2 separate regions of the Homo sapiens genome follow, and region 1 is linked to region 2. A link means that fine-mapping ties the variant in region 2 to the expression of a gene that starts in the linked region. Tissue or cell type: left ventricle. Region 2 holds a variant in brackets; the other region holds the start of a gene. All regions are shown on one strand. Distances are from middle to middle.

Region 1 (5,145 bases), 26 kb before region 2:
TTTCTGGATCTCTAGATTCTAAAGGCATAGATAGGTGCATTGATGCATTCCACAAATATTGAATGAGTGTCTCTCATAGGCCAGTCACTATTGCTGACAATGGGAACACAGCGGAGAACAGACAAAAATCACTGCCTTTGTGGAGTTGAGATTGTGTAGGGGAGAGACAGATAAGCTTTAAAAAAAAAATGCTGAGGCTGGAGGATCACTTGAGGCTGGGAGTTCGAGACTAGCCTGAACAACATAGTGAGACACCCCTCTCTACAAAAAGTAAAAAAAAAGGCCGGGTGTGGTGGCTCACGCCTGTAATCCCAGCAATTTGGGAGGCCGAGGCGGGCGGATCATGAGGTCAGGAGATCGAGACCATCCTGGCTAACACAGTGAAACCCTGTCTCTATTAAAAATACAAAAAAATTAGCCGGGTGTGGTGGCGGGCACCTGTAGTCCCAGCTACTCGGGAGGCTGAGGCAGGAGAATGGCGTGAACCTCGGAGGGGGAGGTTGCAGTGAGCCGAGATCGTGCCACTGCACTTCAGCCTGGGTGATGGAGCAAGATTCCGACTCAAAAAAAAAAAAAAAAAAGGCCAGGCATGGTGGCTTATTGGCTTATGCCTGTAATCCCAGCAGTTTGGGAGGCCGAAGTGGGTGGATCACCTGAGGTCAGGAGTTCAAGACCAGCCTAGGCAACATTGCGAAAAATACAAATATTAGCCAGCCGTGGTGGCCAGCACCTGTAATCCCAGCTAGCTGGGAGGCCAAGGCACGAGAATCGCTGAACCAAGGGGGAGGAGGTTGCAGTAAGCCAAGATCGCGCCATGGCACTCTAGCCTGGGCGACAGAGCAAGACTCCATCTCGGGGGGGAAAAAAGAAAGTTAAAAAAAAAAAAAAATTAGCCAGGCATAACTGTAGTCCCAACTGCTGGGGAAGCTGGGGTGGGAGGATCTTTTAAGCCCAGGAGTTCGAGGCTGTAGTGAGCTATGATTGCGCCCCTGCACTCCATCCTGGCCAACAGAGCAAGACCCTGTCTCTAAAAAATAAATAAATAAAAGAAAAAGAGTAAAAGAAAATAAAGTGGGAGGGGGATATGCATGCTCTAAGATCTATCTACCACAGATTACAGGCTTTTCACCCTTTTGTGGAAATGACAAAACCTAGTATGTTCCTACCTAACAGAGGAGGGCTGAGGGAAGGTGAGGGAGCACAACTGCAATTTTCCCCTGAAAGAGAGTTCTCAGCCTGCCCTGGCAGATAGATCTCACCCATCGCGTCCCCAGATTACTCTGCCAAAGGTGGAAGCACCAATCACTTTAACCCAGAACATTTCAAAACCAGACAGCCATGAAGGAGGAACCTCTGTGGTCCCGGCGCGTGGGCCCTGGGGTTGGAAGTGCCTCAGACGCACTTTACATTTTCCCCGAATTCACCCTTCGCAGTCCCCATCACCCCCTCTCCAGTGGGATAAATGGCCACCTCATTAGCTCTGCACACATGACCCTCCCGACCTGACTCCTGGTGACTATGCCTGCCTTATCTCTTTTCTCTCCTCCCTCACATTTTCCGCTGCAACAAAGCCAAACACAGCACCGTGGGGGCTTTCACGCTTCTGTGCCCTAGGACACGCTGTTCCTGCAGCCTGGAAGGCCTCTGTCCTCCATCCGCGCGCCCTCACTCTCTTGCTACGAACTCCCATTCATCCTTCAAAACCCAGCCTGAGTGTCCCCTCCCCCGGGTCACCCCCTTTGACCTGTCAATCCCCTCCCTCCGGGTCCCCAGCAAGCTTTTCGGTTTGGCTTCTCTGCACTCTCATGACCGATTGCCCTACATCTTGGCGCTCCCAGACTCGGGCCTTCTCCAGCACCGGAGTCGTCTGGTTTGCTCGCTTTACACTCCAAGCACCTAGTACCGAGCCTGACTGGGTGCCAGAGGGCGCGCCTAGGCTCAGGCTGGCTCCACCCGCCCCGTGCCTCCCCTCGGCCTTCCCCTTAGTCCTGAGGGTGCCCGCGCTCCTGCATTTCCCGTGCACCGGGCTGCCGGTAGCTCCGGCCGCCCAGCCCCCGCGGCAGCAACAGCAGCAACAGCACCGGGGGAGCCCCCCCCCAGGCGGACTACAAGTCCCGGCAGGCCGCGCGCGGGCCGCGCATGCGCAGCGGGGACCGGCGTTTGAGTGGCAAGTTGTTTGTTACAGCGAACACCAGCTGCTCCCCGCGCCGGGCGCCGCGCGCCGCTGCTCCGCCGCTCGGCCCCTCGGCTGCTGCTCCGCCGGCGCTGCCTCCCTCGCCCCGCGGCTCCCCCTTGCAACTTGGCGGGCCTCCTCCCTTTTGTCCGGCCCGGCCCGGCCGCCGCCGCCCCCCGCGCCCGGCGCCGAGCTCCCGGGTCTCCGGGCCGGCTGTCGGTGCCGGCAGGGCGCGGAGGGGGCGGGGGCCGCGGCTCGTCCCCCCGCGGATGAGCCGCCGCGGACGGGGCGCGGGCGGACGATGGAACTCCACATCCTGGAGCACCGGCTGCAAGTTGCCAGCGTCGCCAAGGAGAGTATCCCGCTGTTCACCTACGGCCTGATCAAACTTGCCTTCCTGTCCTCCAAGACCAGGTAAGCGCGCGGGGACGCGGCGCCGGCCGGGGACAGACAAAGGGGGCGCACCCCGGGCCGCTGTCCTCGCCGCCGCGCCTCGGAAAACAACTTCGGGCCCCGGGAGCGCCCCCGCCCCGCCCCCGCCGCCGCTTCGCTCGCGTCTGACAAAGCCGGAGCCGCAGGGTCCTGGCTCCCGGACCCCTCGCAACCTTCCACCCCCCGGTGCGCCACCCCCCACCTCTGTCGTCCCCCCCATCTCCCACCCCCTCCCCCATCGCAGCCCCCTCCCCGAAATCCGGGGGGCTGGGGCGGCTGCAGTGACGGATCCGTGAATGGATGAAGGAACGAACGAATGAATGAATGAAAAACAGGTGTGGGGACGAGGCCGTGGAAAAAACAAACGCCCCCATCCCCCCATCCCTCGGTTGGGCCGGCCCCGTCGCCACGGCGGGGGGAGGGATTCCGCTGAGCGCGGTTACCCAGAGCAGAAAATCATAAAATCATTAGTGGGTGTTTATCTCAAGGTGCCTACGAGGCTTGCTGCGGACGGCCTGGAATTGCGGGGGGGAAACGGGGGGTGGGCGAGGGCCAGGGAGGGGCTGCAGAGGACGTGATTCTTTCTCCTTGGGGTCCTGGAAAGGGGGTGGGGGGGTGTTTTGCCCAACCGTAGAAGGGGAGGAGCAGGCATGTTTATGCATCTGCCTTGAGGCTGGGCTTGGATGCTGCAGGGGGAAAAATAGTTGAAGGCCTTGGAAGGTAAAAGAGGGAATCACACACACACACACACACACACACACACACACTCTCTCTCTCTCTCTCTCTCTCTCTCTCTCACTTGGATTTTCCCTATGCCAGGTAAGGGTTTGACATTGTGAGCCCCGGTGGGTGCTTGCATTAGGGTTTTGTTGTTGTTGTTTAAGGAGCCTGAGCCGAGGGGAGTGTGAGTGCCAGCTAGCTGCTGTAACTTAAGTCTCATTTGCCCACCATTGTGACTGTTAAAAAGGAATGATAAAGTTGTTACTGGTTGGTTTTTCGCGGTTTGGGGCGGTGGTGGCTCTCCCTCACTGCAAAATGAATGAATACTTTTCGGGTCAAGGTTAGCGTGAAAATGACAGCCCCCTTAGGCTGCCCCCTTTGGCACTGAGCTCTAGGGACACAGGGAAATAATTCCAGCCTGTTATCTGCCTGTGAAAAGTTCTTGCTTGGAAATCTCACTTTGATGTGTGTGTCTGAGCCGGGTGCTCAGTCCGGCTATTGTTTGCGAGATGGAGCCAGACCTGCCGGTGGCATCTTGTTTACTTTCTTCTCCGGCTGCTCAGTAGGGGATGGAGATTTGAAATAGTCGCCAAGCCTCTGCCACGGAGCCTGTGCTCCCCGTTGATTGCAAAGGGTAATGATTAAACAGGTCATTTGAAAACAAAAGCCAACAGCTCGGATTCTGAACCGCGCCCCCACCCCTCACACAAAGCCCCCTCTGGCTGTTGACACCTTCAGATCCTGCTTCTGCCTGCCCTCTGCCCCCCACTCCCTAGCCGGGCTTGACGTTCCAAAGCTTGGAGGTAACAGAACAGCCTTGTTTTTCCTAGCCTTGGCCCTCAGCCCTGGGCAGCCCCCTGGCTGATTTCTCGGCCACCATTCAAATGAGAATGATGACTCAGGCTGCGGCTGTGCACAGGGCCTGGGTGCTGGAAGCGGGGGCATTTGGGGGCTTCTTAGAAAGGCAGCAAAGGGCAGGGTCCCTCAGCCCCTTTCCCTTGGTGGAGAGACTGGCCTTCTTCCAGCCCCCAACTCAGGATCCCCTTTGGGTACTCATGGATAGGCGTGTCTCTGGGGTCAAGCCCCCCTGCTGGCCTCTGGGAACACAAGAAGACCTGTCCCTCAGTGGGTCCCCCTTCCTCCCTCCTGCAGAAAGCAGCCTGTCCTGTCCCAGGCCCAGGTGACCCAGCTGACTAGTCCAGTTTCAAGATGACTCAGAGGCCAAAGGCCATCGCTGTGTTTCCATGGTCCGGCCTCAGAAGGTGCGGAACATTTGTCAAATGCCTGAGGACCTGCCACCCCATGCACTCTGAGCCCAGATCATGGCTTCAGGTCATGTGTGACCACAGCCCCCTGCCTGCCTGGCTGAGGCGAAGTCTGTCTCCTCTGGCTCACACTTCGTCCGTCTGTAAAATAGAGATAGCACTATTTGGCCCCCTCATGGACACAGAACTGCTGTGTGGATGGTGTGGGACGATTGTGGGAAATGGCTTTTTAGCAAGTGTTAATGGGTCGCAGCCTGCCGACATAGCATTTAAACTGTTTTCAATAATCAGCCATCCAGGTAGAACCCCTTAGATTGTTCCTGCAATCCCTGCCCCCAGGTGGTGACCCATAGCTCTGTCACTTCCCTCTCCAAAACCTAAGTTTAGCCCAGACTAGCACAGCATGCCCTGAGGGTCCCTGTGCCACCTGTTTACTTTTTTTTTTTTTTTTTTTTTTTTTTGAGACTGAGTTTTGCTCTTGTCCGGGCTGGAGTGCAATGGCGCCATCTCGGCTCACTGCAGCCTCCACCTCCTGGGTTCAAGTGATTCTCCTGC
Region 2 (5,145 bases):
TCAGGCATGCAGAATTTGATGACTCAGAATTTTTGGTTCGTGACGTACTTATTGATCCTGCTTTTACTTTATGTTTGTTTATCATTTGAATAACACTGCCCCCCACAGCGACCATGACAGTGATGGTAACTGCTGTCTGCCTACATTTATCTTTCCCTTGATTTTTGCAAAGGCTTTCATCCCATTTATATGTATGGAAAAGATACCTGGCAGCCTGCGATCTTCTGAGGCATGCTTTTTTTTTTTTTCATTCCACATTGCATTTCAAAATGCAGAAGATATTCTGTGTTTCTATTACTGTAGAATATTAGGGCATTCAGCCATAACACTGGAGGGAATTTTTCTTTTTTTTTTTTTTGAGACGGAGTCTTGCTCTGTCACCCAGGCTGGAGTGCAGTGGCGCCATCTCGGCTCACTGCAAGCTCCGCCTCCCAGGTTCATGCCATTCTCCTGCCTCAGCCTCCTGAGTAGCTGGGACTACAGGCGCCCGCCACCATGCCCGGCTAATTTTTTTGTATTTTTACAAAATTTTACGGGGTTTCACCGTGTTAGCCAGGATGGTCTCAATCTCCTGACCTCGTGATTCGCCCATCTCGGCCTCCGAAAGTGCTGGGATTACAGGCGTGAGCCACCACGCCTGGCCTTTTTTTTTTTTTTGAGACAGGATCTTGCTTTGCCCAGGCTGGAATGCAGTAGTGCAGTTATAGCTCACTGCAGCCTGGACCTCCTGGGCTCAAGCAGTCCTCCTGCCTCAGCCTCCCAAATAGCTGGGACTACAGGAGCATGCCACCATGCCTGGGTAATTTTTGTTTTGTTTTTGAGATGGAGTCTCGCTCTGTCACCCAGGCTGGAGTGCAGTGGCGCAATCATAGCTCACCACAGCCTCTACCACCCAGGCTCGAGCAATCCTCCCAACTCAGCCACCTGAGTAGCTGAGACTAACCACTGTGTCCGCCTATTTTTTTTTTTTTTTTCTGTAGAGATGGGATCTCACTATGTTGCCCAGGCTGGTCTTGAACTCCCGACTTCAAGCGATCCTCCCACCCCAGCCTCCCAGAATGTTGGGTATGGGTATGAATCACTGCACCCAGCCTGGATTAATCTCAAAAATAATTTATTGAGCAAAATAAACCAGGCAGAAAATAGGACATAATGTGTGTGTTTCCATGGATTTGAAGCACAAAACAGACACAGTGAATCCACGGCACTAGAGACTAGAGCAGTGGCTGCCTCCAGTTGTTGGGAAAGGAGCACGGAACACTTTCTGCAATGATGGGAATGTCCAGTATACTTATCAGGGTGCTGGTTAAATGGGGGATATACACTTGCCAAAAGTCATCTAATTGCCCACCTGAAAATCTGTACATTTTGTTATAGTAAGTTATGCCGCAATTGTAAACGCTGAGTTTGGGGTTAAAAAAAAATACACATCTATAAGAAACCATGACCCAAGCTCAGATTTTATCTCATTAAAAACATGTTTTGGTGCCGGGTGCGGTGGCTCACTCCTGTCATCCCAGCACTTTGGGAGGCCGAGGCGGGCAGATCACAAGGTCAGGAGATGGAGACCATCCTGGCTAACACAGTGAAACCCCGTCTCTACTAAAAATACAAAAAATTAGCCGGGCATGGTAGTGGTTGCCTGTAGTCCCAGCTACTCGGGAGGCTGAGGCAGGAGAATGGAGTGAACCCGGGAGGTGGAGCTTGCAGTGAGCCGAGATTGCGCCACTGCACTCCAGCCTGGATGGCGAGACTCTATCTCAAAAAAAAAAAACAAAAACAAAAAACAACAACAACAACAAAAAAACATGTTTTGGCTAGGTGCAGTGGCTTATACCTGTAATCCCAGCAAATTTGGCAGACCAAGGCAGGAAGATCTCTTGAGCCAGGAGTTCAGGACCAGCTTGTGCAACATAGTGAGACCCTGGTCTCTACAAAAAAATAAAAAATTAGGCTAGGTGCGGTGGCTCACGCCCATAATCCTAGCACTTTGGGAGGCCAAGGCGGGTGGATCGCTTGAGGTCAGGAGTTTGAGACCAGCCTGGCCAACATGGCAAAATCCCATCTCTACTGAAAGTACAAAAATTAGCCAGGTGTGGTGGTGGGTGCTTGTAATCCCAGCTACTCGGGAGGCTGAGGCAGGAGAATCACTTGAATGCGGGAGGCAGAGGTTGCAGGGAGCTGAGATCGTGCCACTGTACTCCAGCCTGGGTGACAGAGTGAGACCCAGTCTCAGAAATAAATAATAAAATAAGAAATTAGTTGGGTGTGGTGGCACACGCCTATAGTCCCAGCATAAATAAAATAAGAAATTAGTTGGGTGTGGCGGCATGCACCTGTAGTCCCAGCTACTCGGGCAGGAGGATCACGTAAGCCCAGGAGTTAGAGGCTGCAGTGAACTGTGATTGGTGCCATTGCACTCCAGCCTGGGTGACAGAGCAAGACCCTGTCTGGAAAAAAAAAAAAAAGGAAAAGAAAAAGAAAATGCCCTCGCACCTAACCACGAGCCACACTATAGTTGGGCGAGCTGGAAGGTGTGAGCATCTGTAGGTCCTCAGCCCATGAAGGTGCCCTGCCTGCCTGGTAGTGGGAGACGCAGTGGCCTTTATCACATTCTCCATAACTGGATATGAGGGAAGCATGGGACCGTGATCCCTGGAGGGACTGCAGGGATTGCCCACGCTAGTCATCTCACTGTACAGCTGGAGAAACTGAAGCCGGGACAAGGAGTGGGCCAAGGTTCCATAGTGAGCAGGGGATGCCCTGTCTGCCTGGCACACCACCCTCCTGTCCAGCCCCCAGTGC[C/A]CCTACCCACCCCACCCCAGGCCAGGAGCAGCCCCTGGCACCCAAGACAGGTGCAGAGTCAATCAGCAAATACTACAAGGCTCGCCCAGAACTGGGAGCTGGGGTAGCAGTGACAAAGCCTCCTTGGTCTCTGCCCACTCAGCAGCCCAGGCCAGGGTGGAGTTGGTAAACTTCAGCAGTGATCTAATGGCCAGACACCTCCCTAAGTAGGCACTGACGGTTGGAGGGGAGGTGTGGGTCGTGTTGAGGAGGGGACGTAGTGGAGCATGGTTCGTGAAGGTGTCAACCCTAAGACCTGAAGGCTGGGGAGTGGAATGAGGGTCCCGGGGGAGGATATGGCACACTAAGGAACGAGGAGGGGCCCAGCAGTGGTCACATGGGGGCTGGACAGAAACAGCCCAAATCATGGAGCTGGAAGCCATCCTGGGGCCCTTGGTATTATCGTGGAGACAGTGGGAGCCATGGGAGGTGCTTGACCCAAGGAGTGAGGTCATCACATTTGTGCTTTGAGAAGTGCCTTTGCCTCTACTGTGCAGCGTGGATGGACAGGGTCTCAGGAGACCCAGGAAGAGGCTTGGAAGATGACAGCAGGGATGAAAAAGGCTGGATTTGAGGTCCCCAAGGGGTCAATCGAAGAGGGCTTGGTGAAGGGCAGGCTGGGGGCATGGTGAATCGAGTGGCACACAGCAGGTAGACACCAGGAAGAGTCTGGGTGGGGCTCAGGGGGATGGGTCACTGCTGGAGGTGAAAGGTCTTCCCAGTTCTGGTCCTGTCTCGTGCAAAGTGTGACCTCTGGCAGATCCCATCCCTTCTCTGATCCTGGGTTTTTGTCTAAAGATGATCTATTCCATGCTAAAAGTCTTTCCCCTTAAGATGCTAATCAAGGAACTGTAGGGCCCTGTATGGTGGCTCAATCCTGTAATCCTAACTCTTCGGGAGGCAAAGGTGGGAGGATGGCTTGAGGCCAGGAATTCAAGACCAGCCTGAGCAACATCGTGAGACCCTGTCTCTACACGAAAAGATTTTTTTTTTAAGACGGAGTCTTGCTCTGTCACCCAGGCTGGAGTGCAGTGGCATGATCTCGGCTCACTGCAACCTCTGCCTCCTGGGTTCGAGCGATTCTTCTGCCTCAGCCTCCAGAGTAGCTGGGACTACAGGTGCAGGCCACCATGCCCAGCTATTTTTTGTATTTTTAGTAGAGACGGGGTTTCACCACATTGGCCAGGCTAGTCTCGAACTCCTGACCTCGTGATCTGCCCACCTCAGCCTCCCAAAGTGCTGGGATTACAGGCGTGAGCCACTGTGCCCGGCCTCAAGATTTTTTTAAATCAGCCTGGTATGGTGGTGCATGCTTGTAGTCCCAGCTACTTGGGAGGCTGAGGCAGGAGGATTGCTTGAGCCCAGGAGTGCAAGGCTGCAGTGAGCTATGATCGCACCACTGCACTCCAGCCTGGGGGAAAGAGTGGGACACTGTTTCTTAAAAAACAGAAAAGGGCCAGGTGTGGTGACTCAGGCCTGTAATCCCAGCACTTTGGGAGGCCGAGGCAGGTGGATCATGAGGTCAAGAGATCAAGACTATCCTGGCCAACATGGTGAAACTCCATCTCTTCTAAAAAATACAAAAATTAGCTGGGTGTGGTGGCACGCGCCTGTAGTCCCAGCTACTCGGGAGGCTGAGGCAGGAGAATGGCGTGAACCCAGGAGGGGGATGTTGCATGAGCAGAGATCGCGTGACTGCACTCCAGCCTGGCAACAGAGCAAGACTCCATCTCAAAAAGAGAAAAAGAAAAAGGAAGGCACATAGAGCTTCTAGAAGTCATCTACCCCCAGGATGGAATTAATTGCTCCAGAAAGAAGTGAGTTCCCCATCCCTAGGTGTATGCAAATGCAGGCTGGGCCAGTCTCTGTTCAGGATTCCAGTACTGGAGGAGGCAACAAAAATAGCTTTCCAGACTTGATTCTGGGCTTCTCCGTGCCCCACCTCTACATCTGGGTGGTTCCCTGAAGGTCCTCCTTTGTCTTTTTTTTTTTTTTTTTTTTTTTGAGAGCGAGTCTCACTGTGTCACCCAGGCTGGAGTGCAGTGGTGTGATCTCTGCTCACTGCAACATCCACCTCCTGGGTTCAAGTGATTCTCCTGCTTCAGCCTCTGGAGTAGCTGAGATTACAGGCACCTGCTACCACACCCAGCTAATGTTTGTATTTTTAGTAGAGACAGGGTTTCACCATGTTGCCCAGGCTGGTCTCGAACTCCTGGTCTCAAGTGATCCACCCGCCTCTGCCTCCCAAAGTGCTGGGATTGCAGGTGTGAGCCACCGTGCCTGGCACCCCCCTTTCTTATT

Alleles and levels. Alleles are on the strand shown, and positions count from the first base shown. SD is a standard deviation of normalised expression in the study named.
In carriers of allele C in region 2, the expression in left ventricle of the gene that starts at base 2,194 in region 1 tends to be lower than with A alone (small effect, 0.26 SD a copy in GTEx).

What was found. PIP is the estimated chance that this variant, and not a neighbour inherited with it, causes the effect.
Region 1: it holds the start of CASTOR2, and the variant in region 2 is fine-mapped to the expression of CASTOR2 in left ventricle (GTEx, PIP 0.92).

Annotation. Positions count from the first base shown.
Region 1 is chr7:74,962,512-74,967,656 of GRCh38, forward strand. CASTOR2 (cytosolic arginine sensor for mTORC1 subunit 2) reads left to right here and starts at 2,194. Exons shown (of 9, transcript NM_001145064.3): 1 at 2,194-2,587. The coding sequence starts at 2,475. RefSeq lists a silencer at 1,932-2,041.
Region 2 is chr7:74,988,621-74,993,765 of GRCh38, forward strand. The region is part of intron 1 of CASTOR2 (cytosolic arginine sensor for mTORC1 subunit 2); the gene reads left to right. Among named protein-coding and RNA genes, the nearest start is that of CASTOR2, 26 kb to the left of the region's middle. The variant C/A (reference allele first, on the strand shown) is at 2,806.